Homo sapiens: one gene and its partners. The protein of the gene in region 1 purifies or fractionates together with the protein of each later gene. This does not show direct contact. Each region holds a gene or a part of one and is shown in the gene's direction. Other genes may lie near its edges. The genes, in order: ETFA, C8orf82 and ABAT.

Region 1 (7,894 bases):
GTCTGGGGTAGGGGCATGAGGATAGGTGTCTGGAGTGGGCACCAAGTATGAAGATGTTTGTATTACATGTTAACACCCACCAGAAACCATCCACCATTGAAAAGCCACCATGTAACTAAGAGGACAAAAATATCTGGGCCAGTTGACCTTAGTCGGCCTCTGTCATCAGCCACCTAGTGCTGGTACTAAGGGCACATGCATGAAATGACTACAGTGGCAGAGACAGAGGCAGCAGGAGCCTAATAGCATGGGCTCCCACTTACGAAGCCTGATTGAGCTACTGCCACTGCTGAATGAGCCCCCAATATGGCACCATTCCTCCAGAAGACCAGCTGGCTCCACGGTGCAAGTTGACAACATGGAACCCCTTCTATCTTGGAAAAGGCAAGATTCATCCTAACCACATGGAACCCCTTTCATCTGGAAAAAGTCGAGATTCACCATGTCAAGAAAACGCATATATTCTGGGTACTGTTTACCTTTCCTGTTCTCAGGACCTTAGTCAGCACCACTATTTGAGGGCTTATCGAGTATCTGATTCACTGTCACAGGATCCCACATAACATCCATCAGGCCAGGGACCCAATTTACTGCAATGGAGGTGCAGAAATGAGTCCGTGATCAGAGGATTCCCTAAGCGATTCACAGGCTGGATCATCCAGACACTGCCAGCCTGACAGGATATCGGAATGGCTGCTGAAGGCCCACTGGAAGCAGCAGCTTGGAGACAGCACTTGATAAGGGTGGGGTTCATCTTCTAGGATACTCCTTGAACCAAAGACCTTTATATAGTGCTGGGACCTGCAGGGTTAGAGGTCTTTGTCCCCAAAGGGGAATCTTTCACCAGAGGACACAGCAAGGGTCCTCTGAGCTATAAGCTACAGCTGCCACCTGGGCACCTTGTATGCAGGGACCAGAAGACCAGAAGGGGAGTCATCTTGGCTAAGAGTAACCTACTTGGGTGCCTCTGAGTCCTCCATTGCCCAATTATGACAATAAACAGGCTTGGGAAGGGCATGCTGGTCAGGGGTTGAGATCTTCAGTCCACGAGGCAGGATGGAGGCATTAGCCACTCAAACCAGGGGAGGTGCTAGCTGAGGGAGGGGGAGATTTAGAATGGATACTGAGGAAGGAGACGATAAGTACCATTGTGACCCCCAGAAAGTTGCAGCAGCTAGGGCTGTAGTTGGTCCCAGGGACCTTTCTCTTCTAAGTTTCCAGCAGGAATCCTGGAGGAGCTGCTCCTGAAATTGGCCTGTGGAGAAGAAAGAGGTGTTGCTCCAAATATGCTGGAGTCATCTTCAAGGGTTGACTGTGGTAGTCCTTGAATCCTCCTTCCTCCACCCTCTCTTTTCTGCCCTTTCTTCTTTGGACAAATATTTACTTTCTTTCTTTTTTTTTTTTTTTTTTTTGTTTGAGATGGAGTCTTGCTCTGTCATCCGGGCTGGAGTACAGTGGTGTAATCTTGGCTCACTGCAACCTCTGCCTCCCAGGTTCAAGTGATTCTCATGCCTTAGCTGCAGGGGTAGGTGGTATTATAAGAACATGCTACCACACCCGGCTAATTTTTGTATTTTTAGTAGTGAAGGTGGGGGGAGGGTCTCGCCATGTTGACCAGGCTGGTCTTGAACTCCTGACCTCAAGTGATCCGCCCGCCTCGGCCTCCCAAATTGCTAGGATTACAGGTGTGAGCCATTGCACCTAGCCCATTGGACACATATTTCTACAAATGTTTGCTGAACATCTAAAAATAAGAAGCAAATAAATAGGCTGGACACGGTGGCTCACGCCTGTAATCCCAGCACTTTGGGAGGCCACGGCAGGCAGATCACCTGAGGTCAGGGCTTTGAGACCAGCCTGACCAACATGGTGAAACCCCATCTCTACTAAAAATACAAAAATTAGCTGGGCATGGTGGTGGGCACCTGTAATTCCAGCTACTTGGGAGCCTAAGGCAAGAGAATCCATTGAAACTGAGGGGAGGTGGAGGTTGCAGTGAGCCGAGATCGCGCCACTGCACTCCAGCCTGGGTGACAGAGTGAGACTCCGTCTCCAAAATAAATAAAATAAAAATAAGTAAATAAAAGGAAACCATAGGTCCTGCCACCAAAGCGGCTCCTAATGGAGTGGGAAAGTCATATGCCTCTAGGGAAAATCTTCTAATAGAAATGTCTTAGCACACACATTTCTGTGGTACATAACCTGGTTGTGATTGTAGAACCCTGATACATCCCAAAGCCTCAGGGGGCGTTTCATGTGTGATCAGAACAGGTCTGGTCAGGTGTCACAGACTTTGCCCATTTTTAGCCTCTCCCTCTGCTCTGAACTGCTCCACCAGGAACCCCCAGGGGCAACGAGACTCTGGGGTGAACAGCTGCTGCTGATTTGCCCAAGCCTGGGAGCTGTTGAATCTGCCCAGTGGGGGCAGGGCGGGGCAGCCGCTCTCCCCTTGTATTTCGCTTTGTCATGGGTGGGGAGGTAGGGAAGGAGGTTAGTTTGTATCCCAGTTTTTTATATGGTTTTTAGTAAAATATCCTTTTCTGTTTTTACTAAAAGTACCCTTCCCTCTTCCTTCCACTCCCATAGGTCTCAGATTCTAGTCCAGTGTGGGACTGGTTAGGAGGTAAATGCAGTGAGACATGGAATACTAAATTGCCCCTCCCACAGGCAGATTGACTGGGGGACAGGGGTCCACAGCTCTGTCGGCAACATGAGTTCAGACGTGTTCGAAGTGGGTGCAACTTAAGTTTAAGATGGGTCCTCACCTCCTTGTTCATAGAGCTACAAGAGTGAAGAAGAGGAAAGGATTAATTCATCCTGCAGAATTGAGAAAGAGCTTACAAAAGAAATGTCACTTGGGCCAGGCGTGGTGGCTCATGTCTGTAATCCCAGTACTTTGAGAGGCCAAGGTGGGAAGATCACTTGAGGCCAGGAGTTCGAGACCAGCCCTGGGTAACCCTGCCCCTACAAAAAAAAATAGCTGGGCATGGTGGCACATGACTGTAGTCCCAGCTACTTGGGAGGCTGAGGCAGGAAGATTGCTTGATCCCAGGAGTTCGAGACTGCAGTGAGCTGTGATGGCACCACCGCACTCCAGCCTGGGAAACAGAGTGAGACCTTGTCTTAAACAGAACAAAAGAATTGTCACTTGATCTGGGTTTTAAAGAGGGCTGTCAGATGGGGAAGGGAATTTCAGACAGAGGGAAGAGCAAAAGCGCAAGGCCCTTAGAGTGCTTGTTAGTTCAGACAAAGCTCTTGCTTCAGGGAATTTACACTCCAATGCAGTGAGATCAGCAATAAACAAACATGTGCATCCTGTTAGGCAGTGATAAATGCCAAGAAAAAAAATCAAACAAGGTGATAGGGCGTCTGGGAGTGGCATGGGTGCTATTTTAGGTGGAGAGGCTAAGGCCGGCCTTTCTGCAAATGTGTTTTTTGAGCAGAGACCTGAATGAAGTGAGGAAGTACGCCACGCGGGTAACAAGAGAAGGCCATTTCAGGCAGAGGGAAGAGCCAGAGTGCAAAACTCTGAGAGGAGCAGGCTTGTGTGCTCAAGAAGGCCTATGTATCTGGGGAACAGTGAGAGAAGAGGGCAGTGGGAGGAGAGGGAGCCACCATAGGGCTTTGAGCAGAGGTCATGATCAGTCCATCAGTTTGGAGAAGAGGCTTCTGGAAACATGGGCAGAAACAGAAAGACCAGTTAGGAGGCTTTGCAATGATCCAGGCGAGAGAGGACAGGGTCCTGAGTGAAGGTGATACCAGCAGAGGAGCAAAGGGGTGTTGGAGGATATTGCTGGATTCTGGTTATCTTTTGAAGGTAGAGTCAACGGGATTTGTTGATAGACTAGATAACATTGGAAAGGTAGGTTGTTGCTGAATTGGGAATTGAGACAATTTCTGAACATACCACTTCCCTCTTAAAAATTTCGTGTTAAAGTCCAGACTCATTAGCAGTCATTTATTCATTTGCTTATTCATTCAACACATACTGATTGAATGCCTAGTATGGACCAGGCATTGTGCTAGGTGTTGCAGGTAGACACAAAATTTAAAAGTAGGGCATACTGGCCGGGCGCGGTGGCTCACGCCTGTAATCCCAGCACTTTGGGAGTCCGAGGCGGGCGGATCACGAGGTCAGGAGATCGAGACCATCCTGCCTAACACTGTGAAACCCCGTCTCTACTAAAAATACAAAAAAATTAGCTGGGCGTGGTGGCGGGCGCCTGTAGTCCCAGCTACTCGGGAGGCTGAGGCAGAAGAATGGAGTGAACCCGGGAGGCGGAGCTTTCAGTGAGCTGAGCTCGCGCCACTGCACTCCAGCCAGGGTGACAGAGGGAGACTCTCTCTCTCTCAAAAAAAAAAAAAAAAAAAAGGGCATACTTTCTGCCCTTACAGATCTTCAGTCAGATGGGTGACACAGACAAGTACTTAGGTTATTACAACCCATGTGACAATTGCTACCATGGGGAAATACAGGGGGAAATAGGGGCATATAGGAAAGGTATCTAATTGGAATTGGCAAGGCTCCACTCGTACCTTACCCCGAGGTCAGCTCAGTTTTGAAGTTCACTCTAGCAGTGCTGACCATTGCGGGGCTGTGAGACAGTACAGTCTGAGCTCGGTCATCAGCGGGTGGCCAGCTTTGTCTCTGCCGCTCCGCGGCCCGGGCTTACTCGAAGGTCCCCGGGGAATAGCCTCACCTTTGCCCCACTTCCCAGTCTAGCCCCTAACTTCCCGCCGTCTATTGGCTGCGCAGCCGCCCAATGGGCAGGCGGAAACCGCGGGCTCGTGCTCCCGGCCTAGGGCGTCTTATCTCGTTCGCGCGTCTCGCGAGCATTAGGTGACTGGCTGAGGCGGCGCCAGTTGGCCGGGCACGGGGCTGCTGTAAGGCCGAGGTTGCGGCGGAAGCGGAGACCATGTTCCGAGCGGCGGCTCCGGGGCAGCTCCGGCGGGCGGTGAGTCCGGACTGGGAAGGCGAACCCAGGGACGGCCCCCCGTCAACCCGCCGTCCCTATGGGGTCTTGCAAAGATCACTGGCCCCCTCAGATTCGACCAGCCCTCGCGCCCGCAGGCCGGTCCCCGCCTGGGACTTGGGTCCAAAGTTCTGGGGCCTACCCTGGACTCCCTGCGGAACGCCAGTTCGGGGCAGAAGTCAGAGGTTTGGGGTCAGGGTGACCCCGAATGATGTGAATTTGCGCGTCTGCTGCCCCTTCTTCTGGCCCACTCTCTGCCCTGCCGTTTCCCACCTTTGTCGGTCACTCTGGGCACTTTCGGGCCGCCAGGTCCTCCACACTTGCTCCACACCCGAGGGAGCAAAATGTCACCGGGGAATGCCCTGTTGGGGAAAGTTTCAAACCTAGATTCCTCCCGGAGGCCGGCATTTCTGGAAGAATTAAACACTTTGGGCGCATCGTGGCTACTCCGACCCACTCACTGTCAAGGGCGGGGGTGGGGTGGGGTGGGAGGCTGCGTGGCCAGTTATGGAAGCTGGTTCTGCTTTCTGGTTTATGGAGCAGGGCTGAATTTAGGTGATTGTATTTGTAAAACCTGCGATCCGATTTGACAGCTTTAGCCAGTTTTGAAAGGCAGACGTCTTTTTATATGCTTCAGGCTGACCTGCTTTTAACCAGCAGATTGTAGATTAGGTTAACTGGTGACAGTGGTACATTTTCAGTGTTTCATTAGTGACAAACCACATTTCTCTCTTCTGTTGTGAGAAGGACTGATAGGAAACATATTTTCCTTCTCATGCTGTGGGAAAGGAGTATTTGGAGACTGACCAGTCACAAGTCAAGTAACAATAATTTATATTGTGGATTGTGTAGTTTTCCTAGTTTACATTTAGGTGAAATGAGAAACAAGATTGGTAAACTTGGGTCAGAAACTTACCTGATGGTTTGTACCTTTTCTCCTTTTTTTTTTTTTTTTTTTTTTTCTGGGCATGGATATTTTCCCATCCACTCCTGGGATTTTTCTCTCTGAGGCATAGCTGGAGCTCTTTCTAGATGTCTGTAGACATTAGACTTTTGTTTGTTTGTTTGTTTGTTTGTTTAAGAGACAAGGTCTGGCTCTGTTTCCCATGCTGGAGTGGAGTGCAGTGGCACGATATGGGCTCACTGCAACCGTCGCCTCCCAGGTTCAAGCGATTCTCCCACCTCAGCTTCCCGAGAAGCTGGGATCACAGGTGCGCATCATCACGCCTGGCTAATTTTTTTTTTTTTTTTTTTTTTTTTTTTGTAGAGACGGGGTTTCCCCATGTTACCCAGGCTGGTCTCGAACTCTTGTCCTCAAGTGATCCACCTGCCTCGGCCTCCCAAAGTCCTGGAATTACAGGCCTGAGCTACCGCACCTGGCCTTAGACATCTTTTTTCTTGTGCGTATTCCTTGTTTAATAAAAAGTTCTGACCCTCCCCTCCCCTAAAGAGTTCAAACCCATGTCTTTCAGGTTAGTGTCCTGTCTTCCCCTCAGGACATGTTTTCTCCCGGTTGGGGATCTAGACATAAACAAGTGAAAATCATGAATTTGGGGAAATTCCAGGAACCTGAGCCAGAAGAATGCTGCTCTATGCAGCAGTTGGAAAACAGTTTTGTGGACAGATTACAAGTCTGGCCTAAGTGAAATTATAATTGTGGTGGGGGATGGAATTTAGGACTCAGTAATTTTGTAGAGCTAACAGAAAAAAATGGAATGATTAAGTAATTTTTACTATCCACATCGTTGGCTAATGTGTATAGACATTACTTCCAGATATTCATTGTGGTTTGCCAAAGACTTTGACCTTGACTTATTTTTAAAATTTGAAGTCAAGCTAAGTAGAATAGCTGTTTTTTTTGTTTGTTTGTTTGTTTGTTTTGAGACGGAGTCTCGCTCTGTCGCCCAGGCTGGAGTGCAGTGGCGCGATCTCAGCTCACTGCAAGCTCCGCCTCCCGGGTTCACGCCATTCTCCTGCCTCAGCCTCCTGAGTAGCTGGGACTACAGGTACCCGCCACCACGCCCCGCTAATTTTTTTGTATTTTTAGTAGAGACGGGGGTTTCACTGTGTTAGCCGGTATGGTCTCGATCTCCTGACCTCATGATCCGCCCGCCTTGGCCTCCCAAAGTGCTGGGATTACAGGCGTGAGCCACCGCGCCCAGCCTAGAATAGCTGTTTTAAAGTCATTAAGAATGTTGGAGAGATTTGGATTTCTAGCATAAAAGAAATGGTGGCAACACTTCTAAAGTGGACCCATATATTAATAGGGACATATACCTGTATTTAACTTTTTAAATTTTGAAATAGTTGCACTTATAGAAAAGTTGCAAGAATAGTACAAAGAAATCTCAAAACCCTTCCCCTGGTTTTCCCAGCATGTTAGCAGTTTGACACATTTGCTTTATCTTTCCACATATATACATAATACTATCTTTCTGAACCATTTGAAAGTATGTTGCAAATGTGCCCTTTACTCCTAAATAATTGAGTGATATTTTAAAAGAACAAAGAGGTTCACTTTCTAACTACACTGTAATTGGCAATATCTGGAAGTTTCACCATAAAATACTGTTTTCTAATCTATGGATGTTCAATTTTGCCAGTTGTCCCATTAGTACAGTTTATAGCAATTTTCCTTATTCTGGTCTAAGATACTCTAGATGTCCTGCAAGTGGTTTTCATGTCTCTTTACTCTGTTAGAAAGGTTCCTCAGCCTTCCTTTGGGTTTGATGACATTGGTGTATTTGAAGAGTACAGGCCTTCTATTTTCCAGACTGTCACTCAATTTGGGTTTGTCTGGTGTTTCCTCATGATTAGATTCAGGTCATGTATTCTTGGTGGGAATATCACAAAAGTGGTATTGTGTTCCCCGTGCATCATATTAGCAGGTACTTAATGTTGGTTTATCCCATTAGTGGTAA
Region 2 (7,947 bases), on another chromosome or scaffold:
GTACGCTAGGCTGACCCCGTGTTCTTCTGGGCTGCACCCTCCCCCGGGGGCTCTTCCTGGGCCCGGACCCCCAGCTCAGGAGCAAGGCAGGCAACGGGCTCAGTCACACCGCACCACAGGGACAGGACCCCGTTCCCTGGACCTGTCCCAAGAGCCTGGCCCCTTCCCCACATCCTCTTCTCTCTGATGCGCTGCTCCCATCATACCCCTCCCCAGCGCTCTCAGCCCTGCCACAGACTTCTGGAAGTTTCACCCCAGCTCAGCTAGCTTGGCCTCTGCTGTGCTCCCCAACAGCCCTGGCCGGCCCAGGACTCACTCCCACCTTCCCAAGGGCCCCTGTGAGCTGGTGCTGTAGACGGTGACTCTGGCCAGGGAGCTGGGCTTGTCCGTAGCTCTAGTTGGAGCCAGGAGTTCACAGGGATGAGAGGAGGGGGAGGCAGAGCCAGGGGCAGCCCAGGAGGAGTTAGGGTTTGGGGGGCGAGGAGGGCTGGTCCAGGGATGGACAGTGGCCTGGGGAAACACCACACTCGGACCCAGGTGTGTGGGGCAGGAATTCTGAAGAGCGCCACCCACCTATGTTCGGGGAAAGAAGACAACCGGGGTGGCGGGGGGTCCTGAGGATGGCCAGGCCAGACCAGGACGGAGCCTCTGTCTTCACAGGGGCTGAAGAAGCCCAACGTGGAGGAGATCCGGCATGCCAAGAACGCCGTGTTCAGCCCGTCCATGTTCGGCAGCGCACTGCAGGAGGTCATGGGCATGCAGAGAGAGCGCTACCCCGAGCGCCAGCTGCCCTGGGTGCAGACACGGCTCTCTGAGGAGGTGCTGGCGCTCAACGGTGACCAGACAGAGGGCATCTTCAGGTGCCACGGCAACCCCGGGCGCCGGGTGTGGGGGCCACAGCCATGTGTCCACCATGCATCTGTGGCATGCAGGGGCCATTAAGCCTCAGGCCCACTGGGCTGCTTCCGCACCCATACCTGAGAGCAGATGGAAGGGTGGGGCCACAGTGTGGAAGCTGACCCTGAGGGTGTGCAGGCCAGGAGAGAGGGCAGGACCCATTCCAAAGAGGCAGCACAGCCAGCCAGGGAGGGCGCCCCTGCAGAGACGGCCACCAGGGGTCCAGAGCGTGCTTGGACACCAGCCATGGGTAGCCTGGAGTGGGAGCCTCAGATGACAGGCAGCCCTTGTCTGTGAACAGGGATGGCACAGGGTGCCACCCACTCCCATGACTCACCTGTCAGGGCAAGGGGTACCCAGGCCCCAGGAGGGCAGCTGGGGAAACTGAGGCTTGCAGGTTGAGCCCCAGTGGCCCTTTGGTGAGGGCATCCACCCAGGGAGCCAGCAGGGGTCCAGGGAGGGACGGTGGCCTGGGGAAGCACCACACTCGGACGCAGGTGTGTGGGGCAGGAATCCTGAAGAGCGCCACCCACCCACGTTCGTGGGAAAGAGGCCAACCGGGGTGGCGGGGGGTCCTGAGGTTTTGCTCCCCTCCCCGGGTCAGCAGGGGCCTACCGGAGGGAGTGTCCAGGCGGAATCATGAAGCCGCAGCACAGGCTCCTGTTGCCTGAGACCTGCCCTGTGCCCTGCAGGGTCCCTGGGGACATTGACGAGGTGAATGCCCTGAAGCTGCAGGTGGACCAGTGGAAGGTGCCCACAGGCCTGGAAGACCCCCACGTCCCTGGTGAGTCCCCCACACACGCTGCAGCAGAGCGGGCCTGGCTCAGGCAGTGGTTCTCAGGGGCCCCTGTCTCCGCCTCTGGGGTCCACCCTGATCCTGCCCAGTGATGTGATGGCTTCCCAGTCACTTCTAGCACATCCTCCCTTCTGCCCATTGGACAGTTTCCCCAGGTGTCTGCTGGGCACCCCGAGGCCTACCTGTGCAATGCAGCCCACTCCCCACCTGCTGCTCCCTGCCCTGTGCCCTTCTGCCGTGCCTGCTATGTCTAGCCTACTCCCCACCTGCTGCTCCCTGCCCTGTGCCCTTCTGCCGTGCCTGCTATGTCTAGCCTACTCCCCACCTGCTGCTCCCTGCCCTGTGCCCTTCTGCCGTGCCTGCTATGTCTAGCCCACTCCCCACCTGCTGCTCCCTGCCCTGTGCCCTTCTGCCGTGCCTGCTATGTCTAGCCCACTCCCCACCTGCTGCTCGCTGCCCTGTGCCCTTCTGCCGTGCCTGCTATGTCTAGCCCACTCCCCACCTGCTGCTCCCTGCCCTGTGCCCTTCTGCCGTGCCTGCTATGTCTAGCCCACTCCCCACCTGCTGCTCCCTGCCCTGTGCCCTTCTGCCGTGCCTGCTATGTCTAGCCTACTCCCCACCTGCTGCTCCCTGCCCTGTGCCCTTCTGCCGTGCCTGCTATGTCTAGCCCACTCCCCACCTGCTGCTCCCTGCCCTGTGCCCTTCTGCCGTGCCTGCTATGTCTAGCCCACTCCCCACCTGCTGCTCCCTGCCCTGTGCCCTTCTGCCGTGCCTGCTATGTCTAGCCCACTCCCCACCTGCTGCTCGCTGCCCTGTGCCCTTCTGCCGTGCCTGCTATGTCTAGCCCACTCCCCACCTGCTGCTCCCTGCCCTGTGCCCTTCTGCCGTGCCTGCTATGTCTAGCCCACTCCCCACCTGCTGCTCGCTGCCCTGTGCCCTTCTGCCGTGCCTGCTATGTCTAGCCTACTCCCCACCTGCTGCTCCCTGCCCTGTGCCCTTCTGCCGTGCCTGCTATGTCTAGCCCACTCCCCACCTGCTGCTCGCTGCCCTGTGCCCTTCTGCCGTGCCTGCTATGTCTAGCCCACTCCCCACCTGCTGCTCTCTGCCCTGTGCCCTTCAGCTGTGCCTGCTCTGCAGACACCCCCTCACGGTGGCTACACAGACGACTCCTGAGAAAAATCCTGTTTTGCACAACTCTGCTGGCGTGACCCACATGCCTCCAGGATCGAGTTCAGGCCCCCAGGAGCCGAAAGGCCCTCTGGGGTCAGGGCCCAGCCTGGCCAGATGGGCCCTGTCCAGAATGAGCCGGCCCTCCCAGCCTGTCCCCCACAGCACCCCTCCATGCATGTCCGCCACGGGACCCCATTTGGCCCAGGGGTGCCCGCCGAGCAGGGCCGCTGAGCCCCGTGCTGTGTCCCCAGCGTCCCTGCTGAAGCTGTGGTACCGGGAGCTGGAGGAGCCCCTGATCCCGCACGAGTTCTACGAGCAGTGCATCGCGCACTACGACAGCCCCGAGGCGGCGGTGGCCGTGGTGCACGCGCTGCCCCGCATCAACCGCATGGTGCTGTGCTACCTCATCCGCTTCCTGCAGGTACTTCCCTCCCCGGGGGTCCCCGCTGCTTTCCCCTCCCCGCCCCGCCCCCGCCCCTCCGCGCCCACCCTCGCTCCTCCACCAGGTCTTCGTGCAGCCGGCCAACGTCGCGGTCACCAAGATGGATGTCAGCAACCTGGCCATGGTGATGGCGCCCAACTGCTTGCGCTGCCAGTCCGACGACCCGCGCGTCATCTTCGAGAACACCCGCAAGGAGATGTCCTTCCTGCGGGTGCTCATCCAGCACCTGGACACCAGCTTCATGGAGGGTGTGCTGTAGCGGGGGCGCCCGGGGACAGGAGGGATGTCCTGCCGCCCCCAGCCAGGCCGAACTCCGCACTCGCTCTCCCGGCAGAGGGGCCAGAATCGCCCGGCCCAGCCCTGGAGCCCCCTCCACTCCCCCAGGCCCCTGGCCCCGGCGCTCCCCACGTCTTCTGCCTGGTCTGAGGGTGCAGCCAGGGCACAGCAGCGGCGGGGAGGGCGCCTCTGGCCCCCCACCTCACGGCCAGTTCCCGCGGGCACCGCCTCGCCCTCCGCTGGCCGCGGGTCAGCTCCGAGAAAGTGCCTTCTGTGTCCTGGAGCCGAGCGACGCTGCCTCCTTGGGGCCGGGCTGCCTCCCTGTGGCTCCTGCGCGCCCTGGCCTGGGCCTTGCCCAGCCGCCCCGGTCTCTCCTTCCCTTTCTCCTGTCCTCGTCCTGGCCTGCAGCTCTTCCCAGCCCCGAGAGAGCTTCCCGACCTGTCCCCGCCTCCTCTCCCTCCCTCGGCCCGTGGTCCCCAGCTGGTGACTGCTCAGGAGTTTGGGGGCTCCAGGACAGTGGGCCCGGGGCCTGGCAGGCTCTCGGTGGGTGGGGTGGGGGCCCCCAAACCAAAGTCCTCTGGGGTAGGGAGCAGGGCTGGGCAGGCATTCTGGGGGCAGGGTGGGGGAGGGGCGAGAGTATTTTTTTCTTCGTGTAACTGTAAATCCAGAATCTATCCTGCATCGCAGCCCACCGTGTATAGAGATATAAATAGAGGGAAAGATATAAGAACTAAATTTGCTAATGACATAGTTTTAACCTAAATGCTATTTATCTCTGAGCCGTCCCCGTCCTCCGTGCAGAGCAAGTTGAGGTCATTCCTTCTTTTCTTCTCCGATCTTTTTTCTTGGCTTCTGACCAAAAACCAAGCTCTACCCCATCCCCATCCCAGACCTGCAGGAGACGAGCGAGCGGGAAGGCGCCGGGCCCGGGACTGTCCGTTCTCGGGGCCAGAGCTGCTGGGGGACCGAGTTTGTACATTTTCCATTTTGGAATTTTGAGTTCCAATTGTTGTAAAACTTAATTTCTCCCCAGTTTTTATATATATATTTTTTAGAGTTCCGTTTTTATTTATTAAAAACAAAAGCCCCAGCCCTGCCGAGGCCTGGGCGGCGTCCTCAGTCGGGTGGTCCCGGGGCCTTTGCGGTCCCGCCCGGCTGAGACGCTCGCCCCGACGCATGGACCCGAGAGGCGACGACACGAGTGAATAAAGTGCACATGGACCCTGCGCGTCCTCCCGTTCCTTGTGGGCGCGGCCGGGGGCGGGAAGAGACGCGGGGCGGACCGGAAGGGGCGTCACCGGCACACGCCTCTCGGAAGGCCAGGGCGGGCGAGCCCCCGAGGCCCGAGGGAGAGGGAAGAGCGCCGGGCCCGGGTCGCGGAGGCGGGCGCCGCCGGAACGCGAAGCGCGGGGCTACTGCGGGCAGGCGCGAGTTCGCGCAGCACCGCCCCCGGCGTGACCTGCTGGTCGCTTCCGGCGCGGGAGGAGAATGTGGCCGCCTTGCGGGACGCTCCGGACCCTGGCCTTGGCGCGGTCGCGGGGAGCCCGGGCCTGCAGCGGGGATGGGGGCGTTTCCTACACGCAGGGCCAGAGTCCGGAGCCGCGGACCCGCGAGTATTTCTACTACGTGGACCACCAGGGCCAGGTGGGCGGGGGCAGGGCCGTTGCTCGAGAGGCGGGGCCGGGAGAGGTCTCTGGGCGGGGCGGGGGGGGGGGCGTGGCTCTGTGGGCGGGACCATTGCTCGAGGGGCGGGGCCGGAGGGACGTTCCAGGGGGTGGGTGGGTGGGCGGGGCCTGCGCGGTGGGCAACCTCGACTCCTCAGAGCTGGAGGAGAGCGCGCTGGAAAGACGGGGAGTTGGGTCGGTCCGGGCCGAGGCTCCTACATGGGCCGCGTCCCTGCTGCGTTGTGCAGCTTCGGACTCTGTCCTACAAGTCCCCAGCCCCGGCGCTGACTTCTCGCCGCTGCCAGGGAGACACCCGGGCCGCCCTGCCTTTTTTTGGAAGCCCTGTCAAAAGGCAGCTGCATGTCCGGGAGGCAGCAGGCCAGGTAGTCTCCGCGGAGGAGGTGGTACAACTGATTACAAACTTGAAAAGAGGGAAAAGGTGCGGGAAAGAATTGGCTGACCAGGGAGCAGAGGTGCGCATAGACGCGGATAAGTCGGCGGGGCCCCCAGGTTTACCTTTCACGCGCCTCCCTGCATGCGGTGTGCACAGACAAGCAGGAAAAGTGGGCTCGGGCCGGTTCAGGACCTCCCGAGCTTCAGGACCTCCTGAGCTTCCCCGCCCCCACCTGCACGCTGGGACTTATCACGGCCTGGCCCTCTATCTGCAGCTTTTCCTGGATGATTCCAAAATGAAGAATTTCATCACCTGCTTCAAAGGTAATGCTGTGCCTCCCTCTCCAGCCCCTTCTTTCTCCCTTCCGGGCAGCCCCTGATGGGCTCCCCGACTCTGCCGACGGGCCCAGCGCACCAAGGAGTGGGCGTCCTGCGCTCAGGAGCCCCGCTGAGTGAGGCCAGGCGAACCTCTTACCGTCGGCGCCTGCCCTCGGTATGGTCCTGGGCCCGGAGGCCTTGGGAGCCCAGCGCGCTGAGTACACGCACCCTTCATCCCCCAGACCCGCAGTTCCTGGTCACCTTCTTCTCCCGCCTGAGACCCAACCGCAGCGGGCGCTACGAGGCCGCTTTCCCCTTCCTCTCGCCCTGCGGCAGAGAGCGCAACTTCCTGCGCTGCGAGGACCGGCCGGTGGTCTTCACGCACCTGCTGACCGCGGACCACGGGCCTCCGCGCCTCTCCTACTGCGGCGGTGGCGAGGCCCTGGCCGTGCCCTTCGAGCCGGCGCGCCTGCTGCCCCTGGCCGCCAACGGGCGCCTGTACCACCCGGCGCCGGAGCGTGCGGGCGGCGTGGGCCTGGTGCGCTCCGCCCTGGCCTTCGAGCTCAGCGCCTGCTTCGAGTACGGGCCCGGCGCGCCTGCGCTGCCCTCGCACGTGCGCTGGCAGGGCCGCCGCCTCGCCCTCACCATGGACCTGGCCCCGCTGCTGCTCGCGGCTCGGTCGCCCTGAGCGGGGCCAAGGGAAAGGCGGGAGGCCGCGGGCGCCTCTCGCCCCGCTCCCCCGGGACTCCACGCCCCGGAAAGCCCGCGCCACCCGCGCTCGCGGCAGCCTAGTGCGCCTGCGCGCTCGGCCCCGCCCCCACCCGGCGCTGTCCTTGGTGCTGCCGCGGCCCGGCCCTCCCGGACACCCCGCTCCCCACGGCGCGCGCCCCCCGCGCACCCGACTCCGGCGCCCTCCGGATTGGCCTGCGCTCGAGACGTCAGGCACTGGCGGCGGGCGCGGGGCTCTGGTGCGCGTGCGCGAGCGTCCCCCGCCCCCTCCCAGCCCGGCGACTGCTCGGGCCCGGCCGCCACCTGCACGGCGGGGGAGCCGCTCGCCGCGGGAGCGTCAGGTGAGGGGACGCCCGACCCAAGGTCACCAGGCGTGGGGGCGCTGGGGGATCGGGGACCATCCCGGCTCTGACCCTGGTGCGCTCCGAGAAGGGCGTGGGTCCTGGAGGGGGATGGGGAACGCGGAGGCCACGCCCTCCCTGAGCCCGGCCGAAAATCAACCGGCTCTCGTGGGTAGCAGAGGAGGCCGTGGGGGATACAGGCACCAGGTCGCAGCGCTGCAGAGGTGCGCAAGGGCCGCCCAAAGACCAGCTTGGGCCTCGCACTGCGCCCGAGGCAGACACAGGGCGTTCCATCCTCTTCCCTCCCCGCTCCCGCACAGAGGGGCGCCCAGGAGGCAGTGACAGTCGTCGCGGAATCCTGCGTGTGACACCCCGCCCCTGCCCAGCGGATTAGGGAGTTGTCCTCTGGTAAAAGGATTTCTGGGCTGCTTCCAGCTTGGGGCCCTCATCCCTGCCCTGGCAGGCCTTTCTACACCGATCTGCATCTAGTGGGGGGTCAGCGTGAGCAGCAGCGCCGTGAGTTCTGAGGCCAAGAACCTTCTCCACTTGAGAAGCCTTCCTGGGGGAGGCTGAGTGGGCCAGGCCTGGAGCCACGTACCAACACTTTATACCCAGGGGAATGGATCCCAAGGGCCCAGATAACGCCCCCAACTTCTTGGGGTTCACACGCGTCCTGAGACATCTGGGAACTGCCTCTGCCTGGGCCAAAGCTATTCCATTAAAACTTTATTGCTGTGCTTACTTATTTCTAGTGACTTTAAATAATCATGTGAGTTACAATTTAGGGCAAGATTTAAACACCAAGGCCACTTGGTCCTGTCCCTTTCCACATGACTCGAAAGGAGGAAGAGCTGATGGACAGGCAAATGTTTGGGGAGGCCGGCCAGATGAGGCTGGGAGACAGGACACCTGCAGCCCTGT
Region 3 (7,835 bases), on another chromosome or scaffold:
TTACAGGTGTGAGCCATTGCACCTGTTCCCCCTTCCCATGTTTTCTTCTAAGAATTTTATAGTGTTAGGTCTTATATTTATTTAGGTCTTTGATCCAATGTTGAGTTAGTTTTTTTATATGGTGTGAGGTAAGCGTCTATCTTCTTTCTTTTACATGTGAAAACGTGGTAGATACTTTATTCAATTTACAGATTAGAACATAGAGACTGAGAGGGAGTAAATGACATGTCCAGAGTCACATAGCCATTGGGAGTTGGAACTAGAATTCAATATTAGGTCTGACTCCCAAGTTGATCCCCTTTCCACCACATCAAAATGCCCTTTATTATTTTGTATAGATGATATCTCTTTATTATTTTGTGACCAGGGATGTGGAAATCACAGGCCTAGTCAATAAAATATGTGCTTTAATCTGGCTCTGGACAAGTTATTCCTCCTCTCTGGGCCTCAGTCTCCTCTTCTGTACAATGGGCTGCTGATCTCTAAGAGTCTCTCCTGTGGAGACAACTGGTACCCTTGGAGCCTCATTCACCCTTGCCTTTGTTTTCATTTCTCCTCTCCAGAGTGCAGTGGGGGCCCTCCCAGCTACAGCTGCGCTTCTGGAAGGAGCTTATTGATAGGCACAGAGTATGGGTGAGTCTTCATCCCAGGCCTCAGCCAAACTCTGGGAAACACTCTGCATTCCCTGGCAGACAGCTGCAACCCCAAGCAGCTCCATAGGAAAACTGCAGAATGGCAGAAAATGCAAGGGAAGCCAATATGGAAAGGGCTTTTTCCACATGCTGACAGTTTTCTTCACAAGTATCACAATGAAGCTATTTGAGAATCAGCTTGCAAAGCACCTGGCTCTAAATAGCCTTCTCTCCCTAGTCCTTAAGTAGAGACAAAGCAGCTCCTTTTATCCTCTAGAAGTGCCCTTTCCTAGGGCCTGACCCACAAATGGGTGCTCAAAACCTAGTTGAATGAATGAATGAACAGATGAATGAAGATGGCTACACACACTTCTTATTTCCCTTGATTGCCTTAGACCAGGACACGGCAGATTTTTCGCAAAGGGCTGGAAGGTAAATATTGTTGTCTTTTCAGGTCACAGAGTCTCTGTCACAGCTACTCAGCTCTGCTGTTGTAGCTCACAGACAGCCATAGACAATGCATAAATAAATAGGCCTGGCTGTGTTCCCATAAAATTTTATTTATGCACAGTAAAATTTGAATTTTATGTAGTTTCTATGTGTCACATAACATTATTCTTCTTGTGAATTTTTTTAACCATTTAATATGTAAAACCAATCTTAGCTCATGGTCATAGGAAAACATGATGAACTACATTTGGTCTATGAGCTATAGTTTGTCAACCTTTGGCTTAGACTCTTTTTTAAAAAAAAATTATTTATAAATAGAGATGGGGTTTCGCCATGTTGGCCAGGCTGGTCTCGAACCCCTGGCCTCAAGTGATCTGCCCGCCTCAGCCTCCCAGAATACTGGGATTACAGGTGTGAGCCACCACTCCGGGCCCTTTGGTTTAGACTTTTCCTTTCTGTTTTTCATTTTAAATATTTTCTTCTTAGTACCAGAGTAATATATATTCATTACAGAATAATTAGAAATTAGTGACATTGTAAAGTTTATCCTCTATTAAAAATAAACCCAAGGGGATAAAAAGAAATTACTGACATGGACATGCAAATAAAGTAATATTAGAATAATCTATAATTTCAATACACAAAAATAACCATTCTCCTACTGAACACAGTTTTTCACTCAGCATTGCTAGCTAGCTATATCGGTGCCTTTTAATATGATAGCCACTAGCTACCTGTTACTGTTACACCTTAAATTAAAATTAGATACAGGCTGGGCGTGGTGGTTCACACCTGTAATCCCAGCACTTTGGGAGGCTGAGGCAGGCAGATCACTGGAGGCCAGGAGTTTGAGACCAGCCTGGCCAACATGACGAAACCCTGTCTCTACTAAAAATTAAAAAATTAAACAACGAGCCAGGCGTGGTGGAGCACGCTTGTAATCCCAACTACTCAGGAGGCTTAGGCAGGAGAACCGCTTGAACCTGGGAGGCAGAGGTTGCAGCGAGCTGAGATCACACCACTGCACTCCAGCCTGGGTGACAGAGCGAGACTCCGTCTCTAAAAAAATAAATAAATAGATACAATTAAAATACAGTTATTCGGTTAACTAGTCATTGCTTTTTCCAAAATTTTAAATTTATTTTTCCCTTTTCCTTTTTTTATTATTTCTTTCTTTCTTTTTTTTTTTTAAACATCTTGGATACCAAAATTAGTCATTTCAGGTGTTCAATACCTCCATGTGGCTAGTGGCTACCACACGGGACGGCACAGATATAGAGCATCATAGAAAGTTATATTACACAGCATTGATCTAGCTCTACCTGGTAGATTTAACAAAAAGTAAGATGTTTAACAAAAAGTAAGACAGTACCAAATATACTGTTTTTGCAAATAACTTAACATTTTGAGATTTGTTTTGTTTTGTTTTTGAGACAGGGTCTCACTCTGTCACCCAGCTGGAGTACAGTGGTGTAATCTTGGCCCACAGCAGCCTCAACCTCCCAGGCTCAAGGCTGCCTCAGTCTCCTGAGTAGCTGGGACTACATGCATGCGCCACATCGCCCGGATAATTTTTGTATTTTTTGTAGAGACAGGGTTTCACTATGTTACCCAGGCTGGTCTTGAACTCCTTGGCTCAAGCGATCCTCTTGCCTTGGCTTCCCAAAGTGCTGGAATTACAGGCGTGTCACCACACCCAGCCCCATTCAATATTTCATACCTATGTTTATTGTTCAATTTCATGCAACAATTTCCCTCTGAGTCCCTGCTGTTGTGCATTCAAGTTGTTCCCAGTTTTTCCCTGTGATAAACAAAATGGTAGTAAGCTACTTTATCATTAAATCTTTGTACCTTTAAATGTTTTCAGATAAGTTCATAGGGATTGGATTGCTAGATCAAAGGGTCAACTTACTTTTAAGATTTTTAAAATAGAAATACCCAATTTCCCTCCAGAAAGGCTGTGATCTTTCTACTGCCATCATCAATACATGAAACTCCTTGAAGTCTTTGCAAAGAATAGTAATTATAATAATAAAAACAAGGTCATTTTGGTAGGTAAACTCTTTCCCTCTTTTGGTTTTAACTTGCCTTTCCTTTTCAAAGTGTCATCTCCCATGTTTATTGGCCGTTGTATTTCTTTGGGCAGGTCAAGGGTAGTAAAGGGGATTATGTTCATGGCTTTGGTTTTAAGAAAAAATTGCTAGATTTTCAGCACAGGCCTCATCAAGTTCCTCAAGCAAGGTGACAATCACCCAGGCTAGAGTGCAGTGGTGCCATCTCACCTCAGTGCAACCACTGCCTCTCCATTCAAGCGATTCTCATGTCTCAGCCTCCCAGGTAGCTGGGATTACAGGCAGGTGCCACCATGCCAGGCTAATTTTTGTATTTTTAATAGAAAGGGGGTTTCCCCATGATGGCCAGGCTGGTCTCGAGCTCTGGGCATCAAGTGATCTGCCTGCCTCGGCCTCCCAAAGTGCTGGAATTACAGGCGTAAGCCACTGTGCCAGGCCTCAATTATTCTTATTTACTGCTCTGTGTGTGTGTGTGTGTGTGTGTGTGTGTGTGTGTGTGTGTGTTGGGGGGGAGGGTCCCCAGAGGTGACACTAGGAGGTGAATGATTTGTTTGGCAGCTTTCTATTTATCTATGTGTTTACTTTATCTTAATTCTTTAATTGCAAGGACTATAGCGCTTGTGTAATCAGAGATAGGGCAGCCTGGATTCCTGGACAGCAGGAGGAGAGACCTCAGGGTTCTACAAGACTCCACAGACCAAGTTATCAGTGATCAGGGTGAGTGGGGAGAACCAAGCTGAACTCTTTCTCTGCCTTTAAGGTCTGTACTCTCCATCCATCCATTCATTCATTATGAGGACTTGGTGATCGCCTGTTGTCTTGATGAGCAGTTCTTTGTGTCTTTGATTTTGTCACTGAAAGATTGCATCCTCTTTCCAAATACCTCTAGAAAGCTGTGGGGGGGCTATCCATCCGTCACACCTGAGTATTAATTATCTTCCACACAGCATTTTATACAACGGTAGAAAGGCACCTTCATCATATCTAGGGTCTCGTTTATACCCACGAAGGAGGTACAATCTCTGTTGTCCCAATTTCAGGAAATTGAGGATCAGGAGGCGCAGTGACCTGCTCCAGGTCATGCAGAAGGAACCACCTCTGACTCCCAGCGCCCTGTTTGTCTTCCGGAGCGCTGGGGCCAGGCGGAGGAAAGTAGCTGGGAGCAAGAAGGGCTGGCAGGGCCCTGAGCGCCGAGATGGGGAGTGAGGTGGGGAGGGCGGGATGCTCCTTCCCTTCTCCGCAAAGGAACCCCTTCTGATTCCGACTCTGGAGCTCCAGAGACCGGATCCGAGACGCGGGTGGAGGTGGAGTTACACTCGCCTGCAGCCCTGAGGGTGTAAATGGCCCATTAAGATCCAGGTTAAATCAACCTATGGAGCTGCCCCCCAGAGGGTCAGGGTCCCCACAACTTGACGGGGGTCCTCAGCCGTCTCCTCCCCAGTCCCAGGACTCCCTCCCAGCCCTCGCGGTCCCTCTGGTGGGTCCCGCCCCAGCCCCCGTCTCCCCCGCCCCCGGAGGCTGGACTCTGCCCCCGCCCCGCCTGCCACCTCCCTCCTGGGGGCGGTGGCCCGTGGCGGGCGCACCCATTGGCTGTGGCGAAAGCGAGGGCCGGGGCTGGCGGCGCTGATTGGCCGGGACGCTCGGCGGAGCCAGGGAGTCCGGCGAGTCGCTGGGGGAAGTCGAGCAGACACCCAGCGCTGCCGGAACTCGGGGCGCGCATCCCGCAAGTCGGAACCCGGCGGATCGGATCCCGCAGATCGGAGACGGGGCCTGGAGGTGAGCGCGAGGCGCCGGGTGGCTTGGGACGGGCCCTTCCGAGGGGAGCCGAGAGGAGGTCCTTCTGCCCTGCCCCCAGGAGCAAAACCTGGGCATCTTCTCCTGGAAACGGAGCCCTCATCTTCCCAAGACGCGGGGCCCTCCCCCGAAAAGACAGGGGCTCCCACCCCCCAGAGAGCAAAATACCTTCCTTTCTCCTTCAGAAATGGGCCCTTCCTCCTGGCTCCAGCTCTAGACAGAAGTCCTCTCCCTTTTACCGCTTGAAATAGAATGCGGCCCCAAAAAGTGGTCTCCAGGTCTCTAGAGCCCCCTCACCTCTTGGGAGACTGATGCCCCTTCCCCATCCTTAGAAAACTAAGTTTGGGTGTCTTCCTTCTCCCCTCTCTTTCGGAATAATGGGGGTCTTCTCAGCTTATAAATTACAGTGACCTCCCCCTCCATGACAAATGGAAGCTCTCCCCCCATCATAAGACAAGGAAATCCCGGAGCAGAGACTCTGCAAGTCACCCTCCCACCCCAGATACTGGGCTCTGGAGAGATAGATGATTCACCCTTAGCCCTGCCGGAGACCCCTCCCTACCCGTCAGAGAGGCAGGGTGGCCTCTGACACCACCACATTAAAGGCTTTTGGGGATTTCCCCTCTCCTCCCCAGTAAAGATGTAAAATGAGGGACCTTCATACTCAGGAGCAGGGCAAAGGTCTGGCCACCCCTCCAAGTCATCCACCTCCCTCCACTCCACCCAAGCCCTTTCACACAAACCCCATCCTAGTAACCCCCTGCACCATCCTCCCACCGCTCCCAATCCCATCCTTCTCCACCTCACCCCAACTCCACTCCCACACCTGGCTGCCCCACCTATTTCACATCCTCTCACCTTTCCTCACCCACCCTGGCCAAGGTAAGACTAGAGGGGGTTCAGCGAGATTTAGTAAGACTGGAGCTCTTAAAACTGGGATCTGGGGCCTAGAGGCCCTTCCAGGAGTCTTCAAACTCTGACAACAGAGATGGCCTCTGAGGCAGCAGGACCAGCAGAGACCACCCGCCACCTCTCCCCCGCTCCCTGCCCCAACACACGCACAAAGGCTGTGTTCAATGCATTCTCTCTTGCAGTCTGGGAGGACAGCTGGCCCTCTTCCAAGAGGGCCCGCATTTCCCCCCTAAAGTGTGCACCCCCGCAAGCGCCTGTGGACATTGCCTGGTGGAATTCCCTGGGCACTCAGCCAAGAGAAATGGGTGCTGCTGGGCCCATCCACTGGGGAGGAGACAGTGTTGGCTTTGCTGCTTTGATGAAGCTAGACTAAGGGACAGGATGTTGGTGACCTGGGGGTGGGGAGGGGGTGGGAAGAGCTCTTCTCTGGTGGGTCAGGTTGGGAGGCAGGAGAGAGGGAGGCAGTGAGTTGTGTCTTGCTCTTTGGAGCCTGTGTTGCGGCGTGGAGTCATAGAGAAATGTGTTTTCTCGAGGCCCAAAGAGGTTAGCCACGGGGAGAGGTAAATGGTCCAGTCTGGAGTCCTAAGACCTAAAAGGGCTTCTGCATTAAAGACGTGGCCCCTTCATTTGACAGTTAAACACACAGAGGCACAAAAGGGGAAGAGACTTGCTCAAGGTCACCCAGCCTGTGGGAGACAGCTGGCCCCAACCCCTCCAGGACCCTTAAGGTGCTAGGATCCCTGACACAAGCCCCAGTCCTCACATTTACAATGGGGACTTGGGGACTGCTGGGTCCCAAGTCCCCACTTGTCAGAGGAAGCGCCAAGGCTCTGCAAAGGTCATGAAGCCAGGAAGGGGCAGAGCTGGAACTCAATGCCATCCCCCAGCAGGCTGCCTCGTGGAATCCATTCCTGGGTGTCAGCGCATCCCTGCTTACCCCGTGCGATCTTTGTGTTGAGGCCATTGCCAAATCTAGGCTTGCCAAAATCCAAACTGACCCAGGATAGCTAATAAGATCAGTTGCAGCTAATGAGAATGAGATGCTGGAGTGGAGGCTACTGCAGGAACCTCACTTGCATAGCTGGGTTTGCTCCAAGAACTTTGGACAGGTCCTGAGGATGTCATATTCCTTCCCTCCAAGGTCCCCTCCCTCTTAGCCCCTGCCCACGCCCTCTGGCTTTGAGTTCCCTGCACATTGTCTCATCTCTGTTCAGAGGCCTGCGTCTTTTCTCCTGGGGCATTGCATGGGAAAAGAGCTGAAATTCTGGCAGATTCTCTAGGACCACCCAGCTGGGCAGCATGGTCTGAAGTAGAGGCTCTCTCTGTTTCTGCCCCCACCCAGTTCCCAGCTAAAGGATTGGTTGTTGTGCCCCAACTTTGCCAAGGCGAAGTTCAAAGCATGAGGAGGACCACGGTAGAGAGGCCGAGAGGTTGGTCCCTGGAGACCTCTTATCTGGGTCGAGAGCACAAATCTGCCACTTAGTGTCTGATCTTAACCTCTCTGTGACATATCCTTGGGGTAAAATGAGTTAATCCTCATAAAATGTTTAGCACACAGCAAAATGAGCAGAAACAATGATTACAAGTGCAAAGTCATAAAACCTCTAATCATGAAGTGGGGAGGTGCTTATGCCTTAAGGCAAAACTTGTAACCCTTGCCGTAGATAATCTGCCAGGGCCAAGGTGCCTGGGGACAAGGGGATGTCTTCCTAGAGAGACAGTGTAGTATGTGGAATGGACCACAGACCCTGAAGCCAGATGGAGTAGAGAGTTGGCCACTGGTAGTGGCTGTCTATGGAAACTTAGGCAAGTCATTCATGTCTCTGAACCTCAGTTCCTCGTCTTTGAATGAGGTTTGTTGGGGTTGGACATCAGAAAAGAGACAGGTCTAGATGAGGGGTTCTCATTTTGGGCACTGTTGACAGTTGGGTCAGAGGATTCTTTGTTGTGGGACTCCCCTGTGTATTGTAGGATA

The links.
Region 2: the proteins of ETFA (region 1) and C8orf82 purify together in Homo sapiens (affinity purification with mass spectrometry; 3 studies listed by BioGRID and IntAct, with this or other methods). This does not show direct contact.
Region 3: the proteins of ETFA (region 1) and ABAT fractionate together in Homo sapiens (co-fractionation; 2 studies listed by BioGRID). This does not show direct contact.

What each region holds. Positions count from the first base shown.
Region 1 is NC_000015.10:76,308,411-76,316,304, reverse strand, and holds the start of ETFA (electron transfer flavoprotein subunit alpha, mitochondrial), read left to right. Parts: upstream 1-4,835; 5' UTR 4,836-4,916; coding exon 4,917-4,955; intron 4,956-7,894. UniProt on the Homo sapiens protein: Heterodimeric electron transfer flavoprotein that accepts electrons from several mitochondrial dehydrogenases, including acyl-CoA dehydrogenases, glutaryl-CoA and sarcosine dehydrogenase.
Region 2 is NC_000008.11:144,526,039-144,533,985, reverse strand, and holds the start of C8orf82 (UPF0598 protein C8orf82), read left to right. Parts: upstream 1-4,874; 5' UTR 4,875-5,069; coding exon 5,070-5,225; intron 5,226-5,913; coding exon 5,914-5,962; intron 5,963-6,198; coding exon 6,199-6,644; 3' UTR 6,645-7,947. Other genes in the region: ARHGAP39 (rho GTPase-activating protein 39), read left to right, coding at 661-860, 1,590-1,681, 3,115-3,284, 3,370-3,564.
Region 3 is NC_000016.10:8,669,782-8,677,616, forward strand, and holds the start of ABAT (4-aminobutyrate aminotransferase, mitochondrial isoform 1 precursor), read left to right. Parts: upstream 1-4,835; 5' UTR 4,836-4,930; intron 4,931-7,835. UniProt on the Homo sapiens protein: Catalyzes the conversion of gamma-aminobutyrate and L-beta-aminoisobutyrate to succinate semialdehyde and methylmalonate semialdehyde, respectively. Can also convert delta-aminovalerate and beta-alanine.